Linked DNA regions of Homo sapiens: regions 2, 3, 4 and 5 are each linked to region 1. The links come from fine-mapping of genetic effects on gene expression. A gene starts in region 1. Each other region holds a variant in brackets. All regions are shown on one strand. Distances are from middle to middle.

The links. PIP is the estimated chance that this variant, and not a neighbour inherited with it, causes the effect.
Region 2: its variant is the best candidate, but not a certain one, in a credible set for the expression of CNR1 in whole blood (TOPMed, PIP 0.52).
Region 3: its variant is the best candidate, but not a certain one, in a credible set for the expression of CNR1 in fibroblasts (GTEx, PIP 0.69).
Region 4: its variant is the best candidate, but not a certain one, in a credible set for the expression of CNR1 in lymphoblastoid cells (TwinsUK, PIP 0.83).
Region 5: its variant is the best candidate, but not a certain one, in a credible set for the expression of CNR1 in whole blood (INTERVAL, PIP 0.73).

The regions. Positions count from the first base shown.
Region 1 is chr6:88,163,721-88,168,826 of GRCh38, reverse strand. It overlaps CNR1 (cannabinoid receptor 1), which reads left to right and starts at 2,480. Exons shown (of 2, transcript NM_016083.6): 1 at 2,480-3,024. RefSeq lists silencers at 1,354-1,553, 1,624-2,063, 2,124-2,803.
Region 2 is chr6:88,131,274-88,136,379 of GRCh38, reverse strand. No RefSeq gene overlaps it. Among named protein-coding and RNA genes, the nearest start is that of CNR1, 33 kb to the left of the region's middle. The variant T/C (reference allele first, on the strand shown) is at 2,709.
Region 3 is chr6:88,367,283-88,372,388 of GRCh38, reverse strand. The region is part of intron 2 of LOC105377885 (a long non-coding RNA gene); the gene reads left to right. Among named protein-coding and RNA genes, the nearest start is that of CNR1, 200 kb to the right of the region's middle. The variant T/C (reference allele first, on the strand shown) is at 3,049.
Region 4 is chr6:88,113,837-88,118,942 of GRCh38, reverse strand. No RefSeq gene overlaps it. Among named protein-coding and RNA genes, the nearest start is that of CNR1, 50 kb to the left of the region's middle. The variant G/A (reference allele first, on the strand shown) is at 2,225.
Region 5 is chr6:88,453,278-88,458,383 of GRCh38, reverse strand. No RefSeq gene overlaps it. Among named protein-coding and RNA genes, the nearest start is that of CNR1, 290 kb to the right of the region's middle. The variant C/T (reference allele first, on the strand shown) is at 2,193.

The sequences.
Region 1 (5,106 bases):
GATGACTTAGAGACACAATAATCAGATTGTTCCTCTTTATGAAAAAGCAAAAGCTGGTGTGGCTGAGTTGAGATACAAGATTTCCATGGAATACCTTTCACAGGTTGATGCTGACCACCACGAAGGTATAGATCAACATGTGGGAAAGTGCTCCTTATAGAAGGAGCACCACCAGGGTGTGTCAGTGTTGTTTAGCTGAGTGATGTTGAACAGCTCTGCCACTCCAACAGCTCACGCCCTCCAGCTACAGGGGAGGGTGGTAGCACCCAAGTGAAATCCTGTGGCCTGAAAGCATTCTAGGAGTCCAGCTCCCCCAGGTTTCTTGTGACTGAAGATGTCCTTATCACAGTCAGAGGAAGCGCTGCCTTGATCCTTTCTTTTAATTACTAGCAGTCATTTGAAACTGAGCTGCCAGGTGGAGGAGAGACTTTGAAGTTATTGTCATCTGGCCTCTTGGGAAATCAGAGTCTGCGAGGTCATAAGGAGAGAAAATTTTTGCAAATATTTCCTACTGCCAGGGGTGTGAGGTGAAGGGAAAATCTAACAACCACGACCCCTAAAAGAAAAAAGCAACAGATGTTGAAGCCTCCTCCCTTTGAATCTTGCGCTGGAGCTGTCTCTGCCATGGAGGTGGGCTAAAAATGCCTGTGAGTAGAGCCTTCCCCAAGCAGCAGGGTTAAGGCTCAGCACTAATCCCACATCTACTATCTATCTCCCAGTCATTCTTCCATCTATCGATGGGTCCATCAGAACTTTATTGATAACCTTTTCTAACCACCCACCTAGTAGGACTTAATCATTTCAGCGGTGGACTCTCTCTCTCAATGGAGTCAAATGGTCATTTGCTTGACGGAAATACTTCTAGTCTAAAGCAGTCTAGGGGGATTTTCAAAAACTGCACTAGTGCTCTGCGGGAAGCCTTTGTACGATTTGGCCTGACGTTTCCAAAACGGTTTTACAGCCTTCCCTCCTCCAGGACCTTGAACTCAACAATCTTCCTTCTTTCCCTGAGAGGCTCGCTTTCACAGATTCTCACCACGTAGTTCAAATATAGGGTCCAGATATAGTACGGTTGCTGTTGGGGTCTGATCAGGGGCGGGAAGACCTGGAGGTCGGTAAAACGGAGCGGTGCGGGATGATGTCTGGGAACACCGGCAAGGTGTCATAAAATGAACGCCAAGGCGGCCACAAGAGGACGGCCGGGAACCGAACCCAGCGCCCAGCACGGGGCCCTTGTGGCCGACGTGACGTGGCTCCGTCAGGTGGAAACCGTGCGATCCTCTCCCGATCCAACTCACGAGAGATAAAGATGTCTAAATAACCACGACCGCCGCCGCACACCCTGCAGGGCCCCGGGGGCGGAGGGGAGGGGAGCGCCTCCTCGGCAGAAGCGGCGGCCCAGGCTTGTTTGGAGGTTCGCAATTCACCATGATAAATGTAAAGACCAATTAAGGTTTGATCCGTGCACACAGGAGGCAGACGGCGGCTGATAGTGGAAACAATTAACGAGCATGTCCCCTAATTCCTGCCGCGGCTGCTGAGCACACCGCGGCTCCCCAGGCGCCCGCCGCTGCCGCCCCCGAGTCCCAGAGCCCCCAGTCCGGCCCTGGAGTGGGGCGTCCTCCTCCAGCGAAAAGGTGCGAGGAGCGGGGCCCCGGGTGGCCGGGGAGGGGGCGCGCCGGGCCGGGAGGCGCGGAGCCAGCCGCCTACGGAGCCCAACTGTTTGCATCGGGGACCGGCGGGCGGGGCGCGCCCGAGTGGTCTCGCCGGGAAAGGGCGGCGGGCGCTGGAGAAGGCGCCTGGCGCGAAGCTGGGCGGCGCCCCGAGGGCGGAGGACAGGTGGCCGCGCGACCGCAGCCAGGTAGCGAACGGCTCGGGGGCTGCGCAGCGCGGTCCCAAAGCTCAGCCCGGCCCCGGGCCCAGCTCGCTGCCGCCTGCCACGGGAGCGGCCTTGCGCGGAGGGAGGGGGCGCGAGACCGCACCCCCGGGCCCGGCGCGCCTCGGCCTCTGGGCTCCCGCTCCCCTTCCCCTTCCGGCTCAGCCCGCTGCCCCAGACGTGACCCCCGCGGAAGGTGTTGGCGATGCGCGCTGCCCGGGAGCGTGTGATTAATGGCCCCGAGGTCGTGGGCGGCGCATGCACCAGCCCCTTCTTGGCCTGGTCAGGGTGTGAGGGTATCCGGGAGCACAGCGAGGTCATGGCAGCGGGGGCCTCCGGGAGCGCGGCGGCGGAGGAGGAGGAGGAAGAGGAGAAGTAGGTGACGCGGGCCGAAGAGGCTTGTCCCCTCTGGCCCCAGGGCTGGCGCCGCGGCGGGTCCCCCGCCCCAAGCAAAGTTTGGGGCTACGGGCGCTGCGCTCAGGTCCCTCCCCGCGCAGTTCCCTCGGCGGGGTCTGTGCCGCCGCCGCTGCCAGGGCAGGACAAAGGCTCATTAACACGTGATGGGACCGCGCTTCATAAATGGGACTGGAGCGAGAGGGAGCCAGAGACAGCGCGAGCGGAGGGAGCGGCAGGGACTGCGCGAGCGGGACGAGGCGACGGGCGCCCGGGCTGGCGGAGACGGGCGGCCCCACGCCGGGCCAGGCGGGGCTCGCGGGAGGACCCAGTGAAGAGCCTGGGAAGGGGCGAGGCTCGCCGGCGGTCGGAGCAGCGGGGCGCCAGTCCCGGTCGCTGTCGCGGGCGGGCGCTGGAGACCGGGACGCCGGCGCTCGGACGGACTGACTTGCTGACCGCCCGCCGGAGGCACACCCCACTCCACCCCACCCCGCCTCGCCAGCAGCCCGGCGCCGGCGCCGCCTCCCGCACGCTACTCCCTCTGCCACCCCTTCCTTCTCCACTTCTTTTCCGCCTCCGCCTCTTCTTGTCTCCCGCGGCGCCAGCGCCTTCCCTTGGCCCGGGCGGGGGCCTCGGCTCCCTGCAGAGCTCTCCGTAGTCAGTGGGGGATATTTCGTTCTAGCGGACAACCAGCCCCTGAGCTGGGCGAGAGGTGCCAAGGGAGCTTCTGTCCCGAGGACCAGGGGATGCGAAGGGTAAGACCTGGCAGAGTTGCGTTTGGAAATACTTTTTCCGCCTCCCGCCCCCTCGGGTACGACCAGTGTGGTCCCCAAGTGTCCTTCGTGGAGTTCTTATTCCGTGTGAGCGAATCGTGCGTCGGTGTTTACTTAGCTGTATGGCCCCAGCCTGTTAACTGTGATCTGTTCTACTTCTGGAGATTTCTACCATTTACTATTTATTGAATGTGTGTGCACCTGGCTCTGTATGCACTGATGTCTGTTTGTAGAAAATGGGTAATTGTGCATGTTTGAAAAACGGGCGCTTGAGTTGGTGCTGAATGCCTATAAACCATGTTAGCAGCTAAGTCTTCCCAGGGAAATACATCGATCTCTGCTGCAAGCCTAGAAACTGACTAATGTAAAATAGTAAATGTCATATAAAGAGATGTATGTCAAATAATAAACTTTTGATAAAAAGCTACAGGAACCACTTCTCTTTGAGGAAAAACAAATGTCCATGTAACTAATACCTAAAATTGAATGTTGATGGAACCGTTTAACTCAGAACTAGCTGTTAGATGACTAAAGTTAATGTTGCATTTTTAAAAGACATTTCTTGTTAAGGCTTACAAATCATAAACGGATCACCTCTCAAATAAAAATATGTTTGCTGTAATAGACATGAGAAACTGTCATTTGGTCATTTGGAAGTTTAAAAGCAACATGCATGTTTCTGATTTTAATAGATTGTCTCTCAGATATTTAAAATTGAACAGATAAAAAAACAAAAGAAATGTTTAGTAACGTATTAATCATTTTGCCTCCCATCTTTTTTTATTTTCCTCCAAATAAGTGCTATTCTTGCCTTTGTTGTTGATTTCCTGATATAGTAAGCCTCCTCGGGCATGTAATCCAATAAGAGATTAGAACAGATTTACTGGTTTTAAAGGTGTTGAAAGATATCTCTGTGGGTCCCATAACTTCTCCTCATTTTTATTACCAAGTTAATATCTTTTGAACAATGGGGGAAATGCAATTTCTTAGAGGAAGCTTAGCGGACACTGAGTATTAGTGGGGTCACCACTGACATCAATCTATTTTGCAGAATATTGAGAAGCTCAGAGCAACCAACCTTTAAGGTTCCCATAGGACTTTATGTGATTTAAAGTGTTGCTTTTCTAATCCTACCCTACTGACAGTTTGCAAGGGAAGATACACTAATTGATTTTTCTCTGTCCTTTTTTTCCCTGGTACTCCTCCCCCTCCCCCGCTCTCTAACTCAGTTAAGAGCAATTTTATAAAAATAAAAGGCCATTTATAGTTTCTTAAGTGAGACAAATTACTTTCAGATTATATCCATACATGAGCAGAAGACATGCACCTCCAGAATTTTAAACATTGCATACTACAGGCACTTATTTGTAGGCACAATGGCAGTTACCATAGTGGGGCAAGAGACTTGATGTGGGACATGGTTTTAAAAAACTAATCCATTTTAGCTTATCAGGAGAACTTACTGTAAACCGACTCTTTTTGTTTCAAAGATGTCTCCCACTCCAGGCGAGGAGCGCTCTTGGCTGAGGTATGTATCAAGTGTCTGATGGGGAGAGGTCTCATTGTGTTTCTCAGTGTCCATGGGGGTACAATGATGCCACAAGGTGGAAATACCCAATTCTGGCCTTTCACAAATAAAATTACTGTGCTTGCATACTCGTTGTTAGGAAAGCAAATTAGATATTCATGCCCCTGAATTTTAATAACATTAATATATGTATGTAAAAAGAATGTTATGACTAGAACCTTAAATAAGCCATAAGTGATTATTATTTAGTGTGTAAAGTTTTAAATTCTGATGAACACCAGGTCTCACATTGAAGTAGTGCTTGGCTTTGTTTGTTATCCACTGTTTTCTGTCTTTTTCTGTTACCCATTTCCCAGTGGACCATGTTCCTCTCTGTCTTGCCTGTGAGATTGCTCTTCTCTAATAAGCCTAGCTGCAGGATCAGTGTGTTCTTTTTGGCATTTCAAAATGGTAAAATAGTGAAATTGTTAAATGTTACCAAGATGAAACTGCTGGGAATGAAATTCTCAAAAAGAACCACTGTATTTGTGGCATAT
Region 2 (5,106 bases), 32 kb after region 1:
TTACTGAAGATCTAATGAAAGTAGGTGAGCACTTAAAAAGATAATTGCAACACAGTGCAATCAATGCTAAAATGGAGGAGGCTATGGGAAACTAGAAAGGGCACAAATACCTGATTTAGGAAGAAGAGGTGATGCTTGAATAGAGCACTAAAGACAAAGTAAGAGCTAGCTATGAAAAGAATAAAGGGAAAAATGGGGATAAAGGAAGCTCCAAGGAGATAAATTATGGTGAGTTGGGGGTAAGAGGGGAGAGATGTAAGACAGTGTGATATGTCCAGTGAATGACACATAGTCTCATGTGTATGGGACATGGTACGTGAAGGAGAGTAATGAGGATGAGGGCGGAGGGCCAGATAACCAAGGGTCATAGATGCTAAGGTGATTAATTGTTCTTGATGCACCTGCGTTGTGGTTTACAGAGGTCTGAGAAGATTCATAATATTAGTCAAAAAGGTCAAAGTTTAGATAGCTTTTTTCCTAGTTCTGCTAGTTCGGAGATTTTTTAAAAGCATTGCATGTATCTGTAAAAGTATCACTTCCTGCTTGCCCAGAAGAGAGTCCGGGGTGGGGGTGGGGACTCTATATCTTGTTTCTACATTAGCTGGCTGTGTATTTTCCCACTTGATGACATTACCATCATTGCTAGAAAGTGGATTATTCACTTGGAACAGAGGGACATCAATTAACTCCCCATACATAGCAGAGTCATCAGTCACAAAGTGTTCTTGGTCATTATTCACCTGGGCTGGGGCAAACCCTCTGATCTCAAGATGACAGGGACCATATTGAGCACTAGCCCTTGGGATTTCCAGCCCTCTGCCCTCCTGCCCCCTTTGTAAATAAGATTATTGCTGCTGCTACTGCTTGGTTTGCCTGAAGGGATACAGAAATCCTTCAGGGAACAAACAGATAAGGGCTAAGAGGAGAATCTTTTTAAACTGTCCAAAGCAACCCAACCCTACACCTGACCCAAGTGTACTTATTTCATTCATATTGAGTAACACAGACTGCTTTTCAATTAAGAGTTTGAGTTTATAAAGGAAGGAAAAAACAGAAGACATCTTTGGATTACACTGCAAGGAGGGGAGTAAAGCTTTAAAATATTCTGGCATTAACCCTTTTCCAAATCAATTGCACATTTCACAGCTTTTATAAAGATTTTACCATACACATTTCACAAAATTTTTTTGTGTAAATTTTGTGTCTTTTTAAGGGAGAGTAAGCTTTGCCATGTATTTTTGGACACATTATATTACCAGCACTTACAAGCCTAATAACAATTTTTCTGGTTTGTGCTTCATTAACAATCTCTGATTATTCTACAAAGGGACACAGACCCTTTAACCATTCGATTCAGCCTCTGATTGCTTGTCATGTTAAATCCCAATCTTTCTAACCTGGGTGGCTATGAGCAATTTGTCTTACCCAGTAATCCAGTGTGAATACTTTCAAGTGTTTGTACCCTCCCACTGATTGAAGAAAGCCTTCGAAAACATCCTCCAGTTCTTAAGACAGGGAAAACCCCTATGTATTTCATCATTATTTACCTAAATTAGATAGATCCAAATAGTCCTTGGTATGACCCAGAATAGGCCACACTCACTGCAAAATGCCACTATCTCCCAGGGGGCCTCTCGAGAGATATGAGTGTGATGGACACGTCATCGTTGCAGCAAATATGGTTCAACAAAAATCTTGGTGCAGTTGCCCCTCCCAGAGAGCCCTCCAAGAAGATGGGGCTCCATGTGAATTGATTTCCTCCAGAGCCTCATTTCTCACAGCCATTATGATGTGCAAGTGGAGGGAAAACAACAGAGTTCCTACATGAAGGTAGGACTGTTGGTAGTCTTTTCTTTAGTGATGATTCTGATCAGTCCCAAAGCATGAGAACTCTTTGTTCTAATCATGTTATGTCCAAGTGGAGGAAAATAGGAAAAGAAATACTGATTCTTAGAAACTGATTATGAAAGTAAATTCTTTAACAAGGTGGCCTAAGGAGATGCCTGAAGTAAAGAAGCTTCTTGAGGCTTTGTGTGCATGCTAGTAGACTTCCCTTGGTGCTTAGGAACCAGAAACAAACAATACTATGGTTAAAACGTGGTGTCCACCAATACAGTCAGCTTCCATGACTCTCCATTTCTAATTTTTCCTGCCCTGTCTTGTGGGATAGGTTACTAACTGATCACTTGCCTATAGAATTTTCATTTAGACCAGAAGAATCAGAATACACTCATTTTTGTTTATAAATGAACATATGCCTAAACAACCAAAAGAGCCTCCAGGTCTGCCTCTAAGGATGATTAGGCATGTGTGAGGGAAGTTGTCATTAACCAAAATAGGACTTCTCATCTCAGATGCAAAGATGAGAATGAATACCAAAGCCAAGGAAGAGCCATAAACCAAAAGACTTGGCAACAAGGCTCAATTCCATTGTTCTGGTTACTATCATCTCTGACTTTAAATAGTACAAAGCAATCTTAAAAGCAAATTCTTTCCTTCGTGTCCAGGGCTAGAATATTCCAAGTGTACCTAATGGATCTCAGGCAGTGAGCCAAGAGAAAGTCAAACAGTAGGCAAAAGCAGATTTACTATGTTTTAAACATTTTTTTAAAAAAATCTGGCTTATTTTTATGGCACTATATGCTTGTGCAGGAACTCTGAAGCCGTCTGCACAAATGACAGCAAAGACAGAGCAATCATCTGGAAAA[T/C]GGGAGCTAAAAACACAAGCTTTTGTTTAGGAGTAGAAGAGAAAAGATGAGGCATAAACAGCAGAAAAAGATGAAATTTATAAATGAAAATGAGCTTATTCTGATTCTTTGGATCTAAATGAAAATTCTGTAGGCAAGTGATTAAAGTATTTGCAAAGATACAAGATTTAGAAACTTAATATACATAAATATTTAGAAACAAATATACATAAATACAATAACAAATAGATTTAACATTAAACAAAGCAAAAACTTCTAAACCTGACTATATGAACTGCTCTCCTTGCTTTTCTCCCATATGCGGAGAGTGAGTGTTCAAGAGGCGTAGAAACCTAATTAGGTGTGGCCCATTGAAAACTTTATGTTCAATTTACAATAAGCATTTCTCAGCTTTGAAAGTGTTTATAATATTTCCCTGGGAGAATGAGTTCCTTCATCTACCAGATATTCAGTGAAAAGCATCTTGGCAGATTTAGCTATACAGGTGTTTTAAGACAACTTGATATATTAAAATTCAAATTCATAAAAAGCTAAATGGGGAGGGAATTATTTCTTCACATAAATACTTTGCACCTGCAAAAGAGCTCATTGCACAGTGAGCCTTGAGTTATCAACTCCTCTGGTCGATTAAAATGTAACTAAATGTTCATAAATCCATTTTACAAGAACTTTTTCTGAAACAGCTCTATTGTTCAAAGTGAGATGTTCCTACACTTTAAAACATTTTCACCTGTCTTGCCCTGTAATCCTACACAAGTGCTTCTTGCATATTTTTGTATTGTGCAACCCAGAATTCTTGGATAGGCATGACAACCTGAACATGCTCAGCACTTCAGGGCATAGGAGCCCCTCTGCAGATTTGAAATTGTGTTAGGGATATAGGCAAAACCTCAGCTATTCACAATAGCAGTGGATGGGAATTAAGTGCTTAACGAAATCCATAAATAATCCCTAGATCCCCGAATCCTTGATAGCCAAGTATGAAACATTCTGTTCTCATCAAAGATTTTGTCACTGATGTTAACAAGTGGGGGAGAAGTTTGATTAAACTCTGATGGCTTCTCTTGCTGACCTCTGTCTACAGACAGAAATAACAGGCAGGCAAGTGGTCAGAGAGCAGCACAAGGCCTGGGAACAGAGACACTCTGCAGACTGTGTAATTAGTTCCTAAATAACAAGAAGATCATAAACAAGGCAAAGAACGCTGAGCAGATTTTACTGCCATTCAGCAGTGTTTTGTCCATGTCTGTTGCATGCCCAGAAGACTAAGCACCTCAGCCTCCTATAGTGTGTTGCATCCTCTCCCAAGGCTCTCCAAAATGGCCATCATCACCAGCTACTTCCTCAGGCAATGGCTCCCTAAAGCTGCAGAGACTCAGTGAAGCTACTGTGCTGAAGCAGAAAGGATGCTAAGCCTGAGTTGAAAGCCTGACTTAGTAGCTCAGTTTGATGTTGGCTGTACTTCTTCCCTTACCCATTTATGAGGCCCCATTAAATCTTTCTCCTGGTTGCTTCAAAGGGAAAATGGCTGGCATTGTGAGCAGACAGGATCACTTCTTTGGCCACACCTTAAGTCTGTAAGGTACGGTATTAATGAAAGTTTGTTTTGAGATGGAATCTTGCTCTGTCACCCAGGCTGGAGTGCAGTGGCACGATCTCGGCTCACTGCAACCTCCGCCTCCCAAGTTCAAGCGATTCTCCTGCCTCAGCCTCTGAGTGGCTGGGATTACAGGCGTGTGCCACCACACTCAGCTAATTTTTATGTTTTTAGTAGAGACAGGGTTTCACCATGTTGGTCAGGCTGGTCTTGAACTCCTGACCTGGTGATCCACCCACCTCGGCCTCCCAAAGTGCTGAGATTACAGGCGTGAGCCACCACGCCTGGCCTAATGAAAGGTTTTAATTGCAGGATTTGGACAATGAGATAGCAGTGGAAGTAACGTTAGATGGGCTGTTTCTTCCCAGGAGCCCCCAGTAGGGCCCAACTCTATTATTGGATTTCACCCCAGTAGTTTGTTTGCATTCCTCCTTACCTTCCTCCAAGAGCACTGACAGCCAGAAGGGTTTGAGAGGAAAAGTGACAAACCTTTGCTATGTAGCTGAATTGCTGGGAGAATTCTTTTAAAAATATGATTCTGTCTTCTATGATCAAATTCAGTGCCACTTTGCTCTCTCCAAAGCCTCCTGGAGACTCAGTAGCAGTCAATCTATGTGCATAGAATTCATACATAATGTCAAACCCTGCAATGTATATTTTTTCCCAAAGGTTACATATATGCAAAGAATTAAAGGCACTGAAAGTTAAAAAAAAAAAAACAATAGTTGATTCCTAGTGGATTTAGAAATATACTTGAAATTTCTCCATGTTACTGATAGGTCTATTTCAGTCCTGATTTGA
Region 3 (5,106 bases), 200 kb before region 1:
AACATGGCCTTTGGTTTTTCTTCCTTTTTCTTTCTGCCTTTATTCCTTAGTCTTGGTCAAAAATAAATCTCAACCCTATGCAGCGCAGCATCCCCTCCCTTTCCCCAGTTCTATCTCTTTCTACTCAATCTCCATTTGGCTTCAGAGGCTCAGGAACTGAACTCATAGGACTGAGTTTTCTTTAGCAAGGAGGACTGGATTGATAACCCTTTGGAGACCTTGAGACTTTGGCTGCCCCAAATTGAATATGAGCAGCAATGTGACTTGGTTCACAGGGCTGCTCAATCAGGCTCTCAAAATTGCCAGGCAATTTTGGATGGTTTTCAAGTCAGGTATTTTTTCATCATCCTCACTAACTTTATTATCTTCTCCATTTTCTTCAAAACTCTCAGCCCCCAGAACTCCTGTCTATCACCCTCATTCCCAGTCCCAGCACACTTTACTGCTTTTCTCTTTCTCATGCACAACAGACTTGGCCTCATATTTTATAGAGAAAATAAAAATCCTCATATTTCTGCCAATAAATTGCCAATCCTACCTGCATCTACTGTGTTTTCTTCCTTCTCCTACCAAAAGCTCATTCATCCCCATGTGCCCTTCTGAGCCTGTTTACTTCCCTCTCACTGGCCAATCCTTTCCAATCCTGCCTCAGTCCTCACCCAGAGCTGTGTTCTCAAGCATTAACCAGTCACTCCTGATGGCTGAACCCAGGGCAGTCTCTGCAGTCTTCTTATCTACACTCTGCAGTGCCGGAGCTGCTGACCCCTTCCCTCCTGAGCCACCCTCTCTCCAAGTGTCCTCTGCCCCTCAGACCACCCCCCCCGCTTTGTTTATTCAACATCTAAAGGAGTCTCTCATGCTTGATCATGACCTCAAGAGCAATGGGATGTAGAAAATGGGATACAAAATGAACCTTCACACTCTATATGTGTTTCTTGTCTGTGCTTTTAGTGTGCTGGCTTCCTTCTTTTTCAGACTAGATAGACAACATCGACTTTCTCTACCTTACTGAGAACCTGGTTGCCTTCAACCCTAGACTCATAGGCTAACAGTCCTAACTAGAGAATAAACAAGGATCTTCTCACTTCAGGCAAAGTTTTTAAAAGCCCAGAGAAGGCCCCTGGTGAGCCCCTGTTGGGGTCTGTGCCTTCTCTTCAGATGAGTGATGTGACAGGAGGAGAAGCTTAGCCATAGGAAATCATACAGACTTTGGCATCTGGAAATGCAGTGCTGTTTTAACAGGTACCAAAAGTTTATAAATGGCTTTGGAATTAAATAGTAGCAGAGGCTGGGAGAATTTTCAGGTGCACAACAGCAAAAAAAATCTAGATTGCTTTGAACAAAATATTGGTAGAAATATAAACATTGAAGACACCTCTAATGAAGGCTCAACTTTTTATTAGAAACTGGAGGAAAGGTGATCTTTGTTATGCAGTGACCAAAACTTAGCTGAATTGTGCCCTAGAGTTGTGTGGACAGCATCCCTTGTAAATGATGAACTTGGATATTTAGCTAAGGAGATTTCCAAGCAAAGCGGACCCAAAATGCCATATCAAGTGTACTTATAAGTGATATAATAAGATCTACTCATAGAAGAGGAGAAGGAAATGTGACCACTGAGGCAGAGATGGGAGTGATGCAGACACAAACCCAGGAATGCCAGCAGCCACTAGGAGCTGGGACAGCTCAGGAATGGATATTCCCCTAAACCTCCAGAGGAAACATGACCCTGAAGGCATCTTCCTTTCAGATTTCTGGCCTCCAGCATAGGAGAGAAGAAATTCCTGTTATTTTAAACAACCCAGTTTTGGGTCATTTGTTACAGCAGCCATGGACAATGAACACAGTAGGGGATGGCACAGCCTGGGCCATGTGCCATCCCAGACGCCAGCCAGCCGATGTGATGACCACTCTTCACCAAGCCATGTGCTTGGTGGCCAGAAGGAAGGATGCTGAAAATATAGCAATAACAACAGCAACAACAAAATAAAACAGAAGCATTTCTATTCTTCCCTTCACATCTTTTAGGTCTGTCTGAAGCAGTGCTTACTAAGCAGTGCTGACTCAGCAATAACTCCCCTTGGGCATTTCTGTTCTTCTCTCACTCTCCCCTCTGCAGTATTTGCCGCCGACTGCTGCTCCCTCCTTCCTCAATGCTCTCCTTCCTTGGCTCTGATGGCACCACACCCTCTGGCTTTCCCTCTGCTCTTCTCTCTTCTCCTTCCTTCTCAGTCTCCTCTGTATGTCACCCTCTGTTAACCAGCCCCTCGATTTTGGGGCCTTTCAAGTGTCTGTCTTGGACCTCCTTTTCCTTTCTCTCTTTCTCATTCTATAGGATCTTTCTGGAATATCCATCTCTTTCCAAGGGCTCAATACACATCGATGGGCTCCCAAATTTATACTGCCAGCTCAGATTTCTTTTTTGAGCTCCAGATCTATATTTACAACTGCTTACTTTATATTTTTGGATGTCTCATACTCATCAAACTTAGCATGTCCCCTCTGTACCCTCATCCTAATGGTCCCTCCTCCAGTATTCCTTGTCCTGGTGATGACTTCCCTCCTCCCTCTGTGGTTCAGGCCAGTGCCCTTGGAGTCATGTCCAACCCCATTTCACTCCTCACAATCGACTTCACTTTGTTTACAAGATCTAACTGCTCTCTCTCTGAAATAGATCCACCTGTAGTCACGTCTCTCCATGTTCACCCACTGCCATCATTCTAGGCCCTGCCATGGCCTTGTCTCACCCAGGACTTCAGCCCTGGCCTCCTGACTGTCTCCTCTGCTTCTACCCTGGCTCCACTCTAGTTTCTGTACAATAGCATGAGTGAGCCACTAAAAATGCAAAAACAGTCATGTCATTCACCTCCTTGATACTCATTCACGGTCCTCAGTCGAGTTTAACATAAACCCTCATTGGGGTCTATAAGGTCATGGATGAGCTGTATGATGGATGCCATCATGTGCTGTCAGAACAGCTTTCAGGAATGGAAGACTTATTCCCTCCACTGCTGGGAGTGTGGCCAGCTGCCAGCCCTCAGGTGACAG[T/C]CCCTTTGGGGATTGCCTTTCTTAAGGAGATGACACCCCCTTTCTAGGTGGCCTTCATCCAGTGACGAATGGATGATGGAGGAGAAAGGTATAGAAGGTAAGCCTTCTCACCTAAACTTGGTTATCGCCAACTTGTCAACTCTGAGAGACAATTTCTGTCAATCCTGCATCTCTACTCAACTTCTCCCTTTGTCCTGTCACACTTCCATCTCTTCCTTCCGTGGGTGTGGATCCCACACACTAATCTCTATCTCAGAGCCTGTTTTCCAGAAACACAACCTGTGGCAATCTATGAAGTGATAGTTGAGACTGAGGGAAGTAATAATCCCACTGTCTTTAAATGCTCTAATTATATCCATAATATTGTCATAACTGCAGTCTTTGGGGTTATGTTATAAGAAGGACATTGACAAAGTAAAGCATAATTGAGGAAAATTAGGATGTTGAAGAACTGAAAATAACATCACAAGCCAAAAATTTGACGACATGAGCTTGTTAACCTGTAGTAGTATGTATTAACTCAGTATGTATATAATCATTATCTTTAGATATTTGAAAGCCTGCCAAATAGAAGAAAATGTTAACTTGTGTGGCTCCAGGGACTAGAATTAGTAGCAATGAGTGAGTGCTCCTGAATCACAAGTTTAGGCTCAATATAAGGAAGAAGTTTTTAGTAGCCATATGGCATCCTTGTGAAATAGTGAGTTCATTTTACTAGACTTGTGTGATCTCACCTTGAGGGTAAAGTAGCAGAGATTCCTGAGCTTGCAGAAAGCATTGAGCAGATGGTTAACTTCTCCATGACAGCATTCTATGAGGATTTCTGCTGTAGGACAGGGTTTTGTAAAGTACCCGAGGAGGTTGATAGGTATAATCTGACCAACAGATTCCATGGTCAAGTAAATTTGTGAGAAATAAAAAAAAGGTAATGTTAGGCAAGTCTTTTTACTGCATGATTTCTTAGAGTATTAATATGTCAACCATTCATCATGGAAGTCCCTAGGGACCATCCAGGACTCTGTATTTTTCAGATCTTGAAATGATTAGTCAAAAGAACAGGACAAGTTTTCTGTGGAAACTACGTCAAGAAATTCTGCTTTGAAACATTATATTCCTCTGAGTCATTAGTGAGGAGAGGGTAATTCTTAACCAGAATAATGAAAATATAGATTGCCAAGTACTGGGAATTAGGGCTCCTAAGAATGTAAATACTGGCTAGAAAATTATGAATTTCTCCCTGTTTTACAGAAAGGGTACATTTTGTTACCCTTGCCCCTTCAGTACATGAATGTACCTGCTAACTCCATCCTTGGCAGTATTAGGATGGACAACAGATAAAAGCTAGAGGATTATCATTTTTATTTATATTATTTATTAGCAGCCACATTAAACCCTTTTCAGTTTTACTAACCATTTATACTTTGAGTTGTTCATAAAGTCCCAGGATAAAAAATCTTCCTAAATACATTTGCAGACAGAACACACAATTAGGGGAATACTTGACTACTGTAGTCAAAATTCAGATCTTCAGAGAGAAAACAACCCAGCAAATTTTACCAATTTTACATTGACCAGGACCATTTCTGCCTTGTTGTGCTATACAGACACCATTGTCAGTCCCAATTATCCAGCTGCCTAATCAACACCCATAATTAAATTCTCCACACTCACTCCCTTGTATTCAGCACTTCCAGTGACTGTGTACCCACTCCAGAAGAAAGAAAGAACCAGTACAGCTAGACTGTTGCTTATCCCCATCTCAAATCTGTGAACTCTTTAATAAAATGCCCATTCTAAAAGTCTGGTAGTTGGCTTGATGCTTTCAGTGGCATGTGAGGTGGTCAAAAAGCTCAGCCACAAAGTTCATGTAGGTTCTATGACCATGAAGGGTGTGTCTCTTCCTGTTTCTGGGCCACGGTGCTTTTTGACTGACAGGTGAACTGTTGCCCTTACTTGTAGCTTTAAATAAATTGAAGGGGCAGGAGAAGATGGGAAGAATTGTAGGATTAGCCCATGTTTTCCAGAAATTTTTCAGTTACTATCACCAACAAAAATGTA
Region 4 (5,106 bases), 50 kb after region 1:
CATCAAGTACTAGATACATTAACAAATAATAGCACCTAAGAAAAACAATAAAGACCCTTGACCAACAGAACGAGCCAGCTAAAATAATATTGTCATTGTTGTTGCGTGTGTATATGTATGTTTAAAAGAGAAAGATGTGGTTCAGTTCTTGTCACATTTGTTTTCCAGTATAGTCTCAGCTTTCCTTTACAATGGACCCTTAAGTAAGAGATGACAGCTGACATTCAATCAGTTTTATACTCATTGGAAGACCTTTCCCCTTTCCTTTCACTTCATTTTGCATATTTATTTGCATATATCTTCATAAGCAATGAATAGGTGCCTTTTCCTTAGACCCAGTTATTTTCTTTTTTGTAAGACAGGTATTGCTCTGTTGCCCAGACTGGAGCACATTGACACAATCATGGCTCACTGCAGCCTTGACCTTCAGAGCTCAAGCTATCTTCCCACCTCAGCCTCCTAAGTAGCCGCAAGTACAGGCACACACCACCATGCACAGCTAATTTTTTTTTTTTTTTTTTTTTGTAGAGACAGGGTTTTGCCACATTGCCCAGGCTGGTCTCGAACTCCTGAGCTAAAGAAATCCGCCTGCCATGGCTTCCCAAAGTGCTGGGATTACAATTGTCAACCACTGTGCCCAACCAATGACCCAGTATTATTTTTATCTCTGTTTATTCTCTATCATTGAATCCCTTTCTTTTAAAGGGCTGATTCTTTATTTCTCCCACAGCTCACCTCTTGGTGGTTGCTTCTTCTAGGCATCATTTTAGTCACTGTCAGAAGATTTCTTTTCGGCTGTGTTGAACATTTGAACTCAGGCTTCAGGGCCAAAGGTTTTTGGATATTAATTTTAGTATCTCTACCATTGAATTATTGGGTTGTGCCATCCCCCAATCATCTGAGGATAAATTACTTGAGATAGAAGAGGGAGAGACAAAGTTCAGATTAGGAATGCTGAGAGAAGAAAAACAGAGGTCTAAGACCGGGGAGAAAAATGTGTTGGAGTGGAGGTCACCAAATGACCTAAGAGACTCAAAAGAGATTCAGTGGAGGTGAACAGGATGGTGGAAAGTTTCTGCTGATGAGAGTAGCCTATTGCATCCTCCACCTCGATAATACACACCAAGGAGCCAGTCCAACCCCTTTGACTACATGGGGTTCCAGGACCTACAAATATCAGTACTGTATTTGGTTTGGAAGGAAGAAGCAAACATCACCAGGGAAGCAGGACTGACTGCATAACTTGTGGGTCCTGGTGCAAAATGAAAACGCAGGGATTCCTGTTTAAAAAAGTATTAAGAATTTCAAGATCACAACAACAGAGCATTACATCAAGCTTGGGGCCCTTCTAAGCGCAGGCCCTGTGAGACTGCACAGGTTGCAGGACCATGAAGATGGGCTTGCTGGGAAGTTCCTATGCAAACAGAGCGATCTGTCTTTGCTGAAAAGTCTTTTATTTCACAACTAATAATTGAGTTTTGCCTGTGAGCCCAATAAGGGAGAATACACGTGATGATGATAGAAACTCTGTTGAAAAACTTGAGGTAAAATATTAATTTTACAAGCAACTGTCAGAACACAAAAAAAATCATGTGATAAAGTTGTACAAGCAGTTAATAATCTTCCTAGCAGCAGAAAGCTATCATCTCTGTCTGTGTGTGTGTTTGGAGATAACTCCGAATTGAAAGATATCTCCCTTGAGGACACTGAGTTAAATTCCAGGGTAGAAAGAAAGAAAAAAAGGCAAGCATAATTTTGAGAGATTAAATGAAAAAGAGGAGTTGCTAGAGAAATGGGCAAGAAACGGTGTGTATGTCCTGATATGTGCATGTGAGTTACGTGAGAGAGGGAACAAGAAAAAAGAGAATTATAAAAAATGCAGCTATGTAAGCCAATGTAAAATTAGTATAGGTTAAGGAATCAAAACAAATGTTTAACTGCAAATGAAATTCTTAGGAAGAAAAATGTTTGATCTGTTGAGTGTATAGAAGCAGGGGTTGTGGGAAGGATGGGCTGGAAAGACTCTGATTAATTAGCTTGGAAATCCTCAAATTAGTAACTAATGAAAAACAAATTTGCTTTTTTCTCTCCTCATTAATTTGTATTATGTGAAGGAAATTACTTTGACAATAAACAGTTAAGAACTGAACATTTTGTTAAAACAGAGGATACAACTGTATTATCAAATAAGTACACAGCAGTTCCTCTCAATTAGTTACTGTTT[G/A]TAAAATGCAGTGAGACTCCTGGATGCAGAGTGCTCTGTAACTGTATATTATTATAGTTCTGATTGTGGTTAAAATGACCACGAATGAAAATAATACACATGCTACACAGGAATATGTGTATGGGAAAGCCACCGTGTACATTTAAAAAGGTGATAAAGATGATTGTTTCCTGGCTGAAAGTCTCCCCTGAGAGAATGACATATGAACATGCTAGTTCTGCACAATGCATCCCTATGGGCTGTGCTCTGGGGTCAGTTAGGACCGATAGAGGTCAGAGAGAACTGGTTAACAGCTATTCTTCACAGTGTTACCTCCTGCTCAGCACCTGAATGAAACTGACAGGGATTCTGATAAATGCACCAGGAGGACAAGAAATCTGGTTAGCATCACTGGGCTGCTGGTCACCTGGGGAGGCCAGAAAGGTAAACTACTGTAGACCCCTAGAATCTAGGCTTTGAAAAGCCCTGAAAAGAATCTGGAGTCTCCCTGGAAGGGCTCTAAGTATATCTCTAATAATAAAACACCAAGAGGATCAGGATGAGTGGGGTGCAGAAAAAAGATGCAGGCAGATGGGAGAGTCTGCAGGAGCAAGTGGACACAAAGGTAATTTTGCCTTCAAAGAAAGGTATAATTTTGGAATTGTGCTCTCTCACTTTCTCGTGTGCGCTCTCTTTCTCTCTCGGTCTCGGTCTCTCTCTCTCTTGCTCTCTCTCTCTCTGTGTATGTGTGTGTATAGTGTGTGTAGTATGAACTGTAGGTTTTGGCAAGAACTTGCCTTCTTTGGAAACTAGGCCTAAAGACAACATGAGGAGATTTGGCCTATTGGTTTCATGGGGATAAAAGGAAACAAACAAATGAAAGCATAAAGTTGAACATAGGCAGAAGTAAGCTCGAGGCATTTGTAGAGCAAGGAGTTCAGCAGTTGTCAGCAGTCAAGGCAAGGAACCGATAATCAGGACTTTTAAAAGGCCAAACAATTTTATGCCAATAGCTGCAGGATTACAAGGCAACGTAAAATTATTGACTCACATGGTTGTCACCCAAACCCTTTTCCTTTGCATTTGGGTAAAAGGACTCCTTTTGAACTGGCCTGCGCCCATGCTGTTTTGCATTAGGAAACATGGTTGCAATGATCAAGGATGGTTTCATTTTGGATTAACACTGGCAGGGCTCTGAGCACAACAGTTGACACTGATGGGGCTTTTATCCACAACAGGTAGCTAAGTGAGCAGGCTGACTGCTCGCAGGTGGCCATTCCCCAGGGATCTGCACCTCCTTGTGGGCCAGCCTTGGGGTGTTCTCTAGTCAAAACAAGAAACATAAATGTATCCCTGCTGCAATCTAATGCTCAAGATGAAAATGTAAAGGAGGAGGCTATGAAAAATGAAGCTGAGATTGGGAAGTCAGGTAAAAAACTGATGGAAAGAAAACTAAAAGATTGATATGGGCTGTACAACCAGTTGCTCTCTAGATCTCTTCTACTCTGAGGTTTCATCATTCCATAATTTCCTGAGGTATATAGAGAAAAATATGCAAGTGTTTAAAAAGCAAAAAAATATAAGAAAAGTCAGAAATCTCTTTATTGATAACCCCACTGAAACAGGCTGGCTGGCTTCCTGTTGTGATCTGGTCTAGAGGAGAAGAACAAAAGCCCCTTACCGAAGCTCTAGCTTACCTAACTTTCAGCCAATCAGCAACAAAAGACCCTAGGAACTGTAAAACACGAGTTCCTGCTTCAGAAGTGTAGGGACTTTCCTGAAGCCCCACACCCATACTTAGGACTCAAACTCAATCTATAAAGACATTTTCAAGATAGGGAGGATTTGTACATGTAAGAGGAAGAAAATGGAGCTAGGAAGAGAAAGGGTGGTGGGTCACTCAAGCAGAAGGCAGTCAGCCAGAGCATGAAGGAATATACGGCGCTTTGAAAATAAGGGTCTGAATCCTCTGGGTCAACAGAATATGGAAAGAGCATGAGTGGAGAGATAGTGGACTGAATGTTTGTGTACCCCCCAAGTTTATATGTTGAAACTCTAATGTTCAGTGTAATGATATTTAGAGATGGTGCATTTGGGAGGGAGGGAGGTCATGAAGGTGGATCCCTTATGATGGGGTTAGTGCTGTTATAATAAGAGACATTAGAGAACCTGCTTTCTCTCTTTCTCTTTCCGCCATGTGAGCTCACAATGAGAAGATGGCCATCTATATTCCGGAAAGAGGACCTTCACCAGAACCTGACCATTCTGGACCCCTGATCTTAGACTTTCCAGCCTCCAGAACTATGAGAAATAATTTCCTGTTGTTTAAGCCATCCAGTCTTTGGCATTTTTGTTACAGCAGCCTGAGCAAACTAAGACAGATAGGTACTGCAGATCTGGCCTGTTTAGCCAATTATGACTGGACTTACACAAATTACACACTCTGGGAAAAAGAACTTCTACTACAGACATACATACATTAATTCATTAATTCATTCTCACTCTCTCTCACACACACACACATATACACACCCCACCCCCATATACATATATCACACAAAGAGACCTGCTCCCACCAAAACTTTTATTTTTTATTTTGTTCTTTTTTATTTATTTTATTTTATTTTTTTTTGAGATGGAGTCTTGCTCTGTTGCCCAGGCTAGAGTGCAGAGGCGCGATCTCGGCTTACTGCAAGCTCCGCCTCCCGGGTTCATGCCATTCTCCTGCCTCAGCCTCCCAAGTAGCTGGGACTACAGGCACCCACCACCATGCCCAGCTAATTTTTTGGATTGTTAGTAGAGACGGGGTTTCACTGTGTTAGCCAGGACGGTCTCGATCTCCTGACCTCGTGATCCACCCTCCTCAGCCTCCCAAAGTCCTGGGATTACAGACTTGAGCCACC
Region 5 (5,106 bases), 290 kb before region 1:
ATCTTGGTTATTCTTTGAATTTCCAGTTGAACATGCAATCCATTTGCCCTGTATGATTAGGTGTTATGGTAGCCAGCAGTGCATTTTTCTCCATTTGTTTTGCAGTATTCTGTTGGTTTTCACTACAGCTTGTTTACCCACTGAAGCATTTGAATATTGCTTATGCCAAGTAGTAAATTGGTTCTGCTCAATGGTATTCTGATTTGTCTTAGTTGAGGCTCTTTAGAATTCAAAGAAAAAGCCATCCAAGCTACCCAGGAAGGGGCTGTTATATGTGAATGTGAGGTCATTGCATGGATATGTATAGATTCAGAGACAAAAGTGAAAAACTAATGCTTTCCCTATATCTGGGGCTACACAATCTCTCTCTTTGCTTTTCTCTCATCTGTGTATTCTTGCCCTTTTCATTAGCTTCTCTTACTCATCTTTCCCATGACCCATTAAGCCCACAGCTCCAATTCTATATTATGACTTCTGCTTCACTACAGTTTCCATTGCTAAATTCAAACTCTTCTGAAAATTGGATTGACCTACTCTCTCAATAGTGATGTTCCCTTTGGGATGCTCCATCACCCAGGCTGGAGTGCAATGGCGCGATCTCGGCTCACTGCAATCTCCACCTCCCAGGTTCAAGCGATTCTCCTTCCTCAGCCTCCTGAGTAGCTGGGACTACACGTGTGTACCACCACACTTGGCTAATGTTTTGTATTTTTGGTACAGTTGTGGTTTCACCATGTTGACCAGGCTGATCTCAAACTCCTGACTTTAGGTGACCTGCCTGCCTCGGTCTCCCAAAGTGTTGGGATTACAGGCGTGAGCCATGGTGCCCGGCCCTAGGATGCTCTTTCAAGACCCAGGGATAGGACAGTTTCTCTAGAAGAGGCCCTAGGAAGCATAGGCCATGAAACCCAGAAAGTTATGGACGTCTTTCCCATCATACTCTCAAGCCTCTCTATTGTCTCACATTTAAGTCTTCAAGCGGCCTTGGAAATAGGAGCAATTGTATCACATGCCTGTACTCCTGAATACACACCAAGATACCCTTTGAGTTACAGTTTTTCAATTCTGCAGAAACTATAAAATTAAAGCAGTTTCTGAAAGTTCCTAGATCAGAGGCCATCAATCTGTATGTCCTCTATTGCAAAACACCAGTACCAGTATCTGAGTTTTCTTTCTTGACCACTTTTGGGGGCCAAATATTCTAACCATCAATGACTGACTGTGCAATATAGAAAGGAGGTCAGGGTCTGGACGTGACTGTTCCACCACAAACTGGAACTCTAGTTCCTCTAATGTAAATTTAGTTAAGTCCTCTTGTTTAAGCAATAGGTGATTGGAATTGTTTCTTTTGCTCTCAGCAAAGGTATACCAAGTAAAATTGAACCCATGAGGCTGGACTGGAGAACACAGGTCAGATACCAAGACTAAAAACCAGACCCTTAATAACATGGCCAGGAGATAGGAGAGAACACTGCTGTGGGGAAGCCATGAAGGGATTTAGTCCTTAATATACATGCTTCTATCATGCTACACTGTAGTGCATGTACAAATCTATCTTCCTAAAAGAAGCTTAAGATTCTTGAGGGCACAGATGATATACTATTGTCTGTGGGTCCCAGGACTCAATGTGGTACCTGGCATATAGTAGGTACACAACAGTATTTGCTAATTGAATGAATGGATTGTGTAAGGAAGCTACTCTGCTGACATCAGCAAGGGCTTCCTCAAGCAGGAGCCAGCTTTTCTCCTTGTACCTTCCTGTGTGTGTAGAATATTGAGTGGATTAATCATCCTAATTAAAATTTAAATATATTTTCTAATCTTAGGCAATTTCAGGAAGTGTTTTTTCATTGTCAGCCTTCAAAAGAACTGTTTTCATTTTACATCTTCTAGTTACATCATTTTATTATGAGTTAATGGAATATATCTTCCTGAGTGCTTAGACCTATAACATTTTGAAATTATTCTTTGCTATGTTTGCCATGCTTAAACATTTCCATGCCATTTACTACCACACGTCATCTTATAATTTTTTCTGCTTCTTTCTGATCAAAGGCACCTGTCTGCACAGTGGTATCTACAGCAAAGCACTGATCTTCTGGTGCCCCCAGGTAGGTACTCTCTCCCTGTCCCCAAATGCTATATTTTATATAATATCTTTGCCTTCGAAAACCTATTGCCAATTTTCTTTT[C/T]ACAAAAATAAAACACGTGTATTGTAGACTTTTTAGGGAAAAAGATAAGCAGAAATAACATGCTAATTAGCCACAGTTCCCATCACCCAGAGATAATCCCTGTTTTTTACCAGGCTTTTCCCTGTGTTCATAAGAATGTTATTTTGAACAAAAACAGTGTAACATTTTTGAAAACAGATATCCCAAAATAGTAATGGCCCTATTCAAACTCAGTAAACCTGCTAAATTTGGTGAGCAACCTGCCTCTCTAAGCTTAATACAAGCCCTCTGTGACAGTTGGATAAACAATTCACCTGAATTTTACTCTTATGATTTAAGTTGCATTTTGCCACATTAAAACATTATAGCACTCTTTGGTCTGTAGTTTATTTTTGGATTTATTTAGCACAAATGAAGCTACTAATTGGCAGTCTTTCAACTCTCTGGGTATGGGTAATAATAAAGACATCATAAAGGGGGTGGTGCGGGCAGATCAGATGCCCTCCTCGGTCTTTTTGATGGGAACAAGTGAAATAATTTTTAAAAAAATCTTTCAGAATTCATTGTTGAACTGGTACAAAAGTAAGAACTTCTCAGAGGTGGGAGCTAAAGTCAAAGCAGAACCTTGGGTGGCAGGAGCACTGAGGCTGGCTTTTGTACTGAGACCTCGTGCTTCAGCTTTGGCAGCAGCACAGACACAGGGAAGGAGAGCCAATGCCAGCTAAAGCCAGGAGAGTCTCAAGAGGCGACCTCCAAATCAGCCAGGACTTTGTGCACACTTAGTGCAATGGAAAATGTGAAATGAAGGCCATCCCATGGAAGGGGACAGCCAGGTGATTTACCTGACTTGAATTTGGTTTTGAAAATGTGAAAGTACAATGTCTAATATCTTCTCTGATAATTAATAATCATAAACCAGCCCACATTTGGACTTGAAGGCAAGAAAGAGGTAGGGAGGAGAACAGAGAATGTAAATACAATTGGGAAAAGAATAATCAGATTGTGAAAGCAAATTAAAATACAAGCATATGTTTCAGAGTTTTCTTCAACTAGTATGTTTCCAGTAGAATACTTCTTTTCAATAACCAAATATCATGGAACATATCTCTGAATATAAATTTTTATCAGCCAATGGTTATGTAGAAGTGGTGTCTAATTACATTCCAAATACTCATAGCATTTTTAACAAAATGATGTGCTGGAAAGGTATCAGGTTACATTCCAAATACAATGGATAAGTCATCAGAATCTCATGAAGATTTTCTGAAAAGCATTCAGAGTTCCAGCAAAAAGGAGATGCTGGCCCTAAGCGAGACAACACAGCTCACACTCCTTGGGAACTGGCCTTTGCCACTGTAATACTTGTCCTGAATGCATTTTCGAAGTGCCTTTGTATTTAGCCTCTATTTTTGACTAGTGATGAATGAGTCACATGTACACAGGCACACACACACACACAATTTTAAAAAGTATTGAAGAAAAGTGTGAAGAAAGAAGAAAACAAATGCAAATAATGGGATTTTAAACAAAGCTACATTTTACAAATTTTTTTCCCTTAAATGTTGGTCACCTCCTTTGACAATTTTTCATGGCCCTTTTGTTCAGGTGCATTTTCAGCAGTGACAAATGATGGAGAGTTTCCATTAGTTTCTGAGTTGGATGGTTTGTTTGAAATTACTCTTTATCATCCCACTCATCCACATGAGCACTTTCCACAACCAGTGACAATTACTGTCAGCTCTCCTTCTCTCTCAGTTTTTTCAAGTATCAAGTTTTCTCCTCACTCAGTGAGTGACAGTTTATTACAGGTAATTGTCTTGTTTTTATTAAAAAATTTCACTGTACTTTTTCTGACAAAATTTATTTATTGCTGTTGTTATTTGCTTTGCCATATTGTAAACATAATGTTCACAGTATGCATGCAGTTTTACATGTTTGGTAATCAGAGAACAATGTTGTATTCAAATAACATTTTTTATTTCAATAGCTGTGGAGTTGCAAGTGGTTTTTGGTTACATAGATTGATTATATAGTGGTGAATTCTGAGATTTTAGTGCACCCATCGCCTGAGTAGTGTATGTTGTACCCAATATGCAGATTTATATCCCTCACCCCATCCCATCTTCCCTTTCTGAGTCTCCAAAGTCCATTATGTCTGCATGCCTTTATGTACCTATAGCTTAGCCTCCACTTATTAGTGAGAACTTGCAGAATTTGGTTTTCCATTCCTGAGTTATTTCACTTAGAATAATGGCCTTCAGGTCTATCCAAGTTTTTTATGGCTGAGTACTATTCTATGGTGTGTGTGTGTGTATATATACATATATAGCTCACATTTTCATTATCCACTCATTGGTTGATGGGCATTTAGGTTGGTTCCATATCTTTGCAATTGTGAATTGTGCTGTGATAAACATGCACGTGCTGATATAAAGACTTCTTTCCCTTTGGGTAGATATCCAGTAGTGGTGTTGCTGGATCGAATGGTAGATCTATTTTTAGTTCTTTAAGAAATCTCCATACTGTTTTCTATAGAGGTTCTACTAATTTACATTCCCACCAGCAATGTATAAGCATTCCTTTTTCACCACATCTACACTAACATCTATTGTTTTTAGGCTTTATTAATAATTATGGCCATTATTGCAGGGGTAAGGTGGCATCTCATTGTGGTTTTGACTTGGATTTCCCTGATTAGTGATGTTGAGCATTTTTTCATAGGTTAGTTTTGGCCATTTGTATATCTTCTTTTGAGAAATATCTATTCATGTAACTTGTTCACTTTTTGATGGAATTATTTGTTTTAGAAAACAATGTTTTTACTTAAGAAAACTAGTTGAGAGATAGGGTTAACATATAATGCATTACATGTTATACATTTTCTTATATAGAATAACAGAAAACAGACTCCTAGTTAGTGTTTTTAGGCAAAATA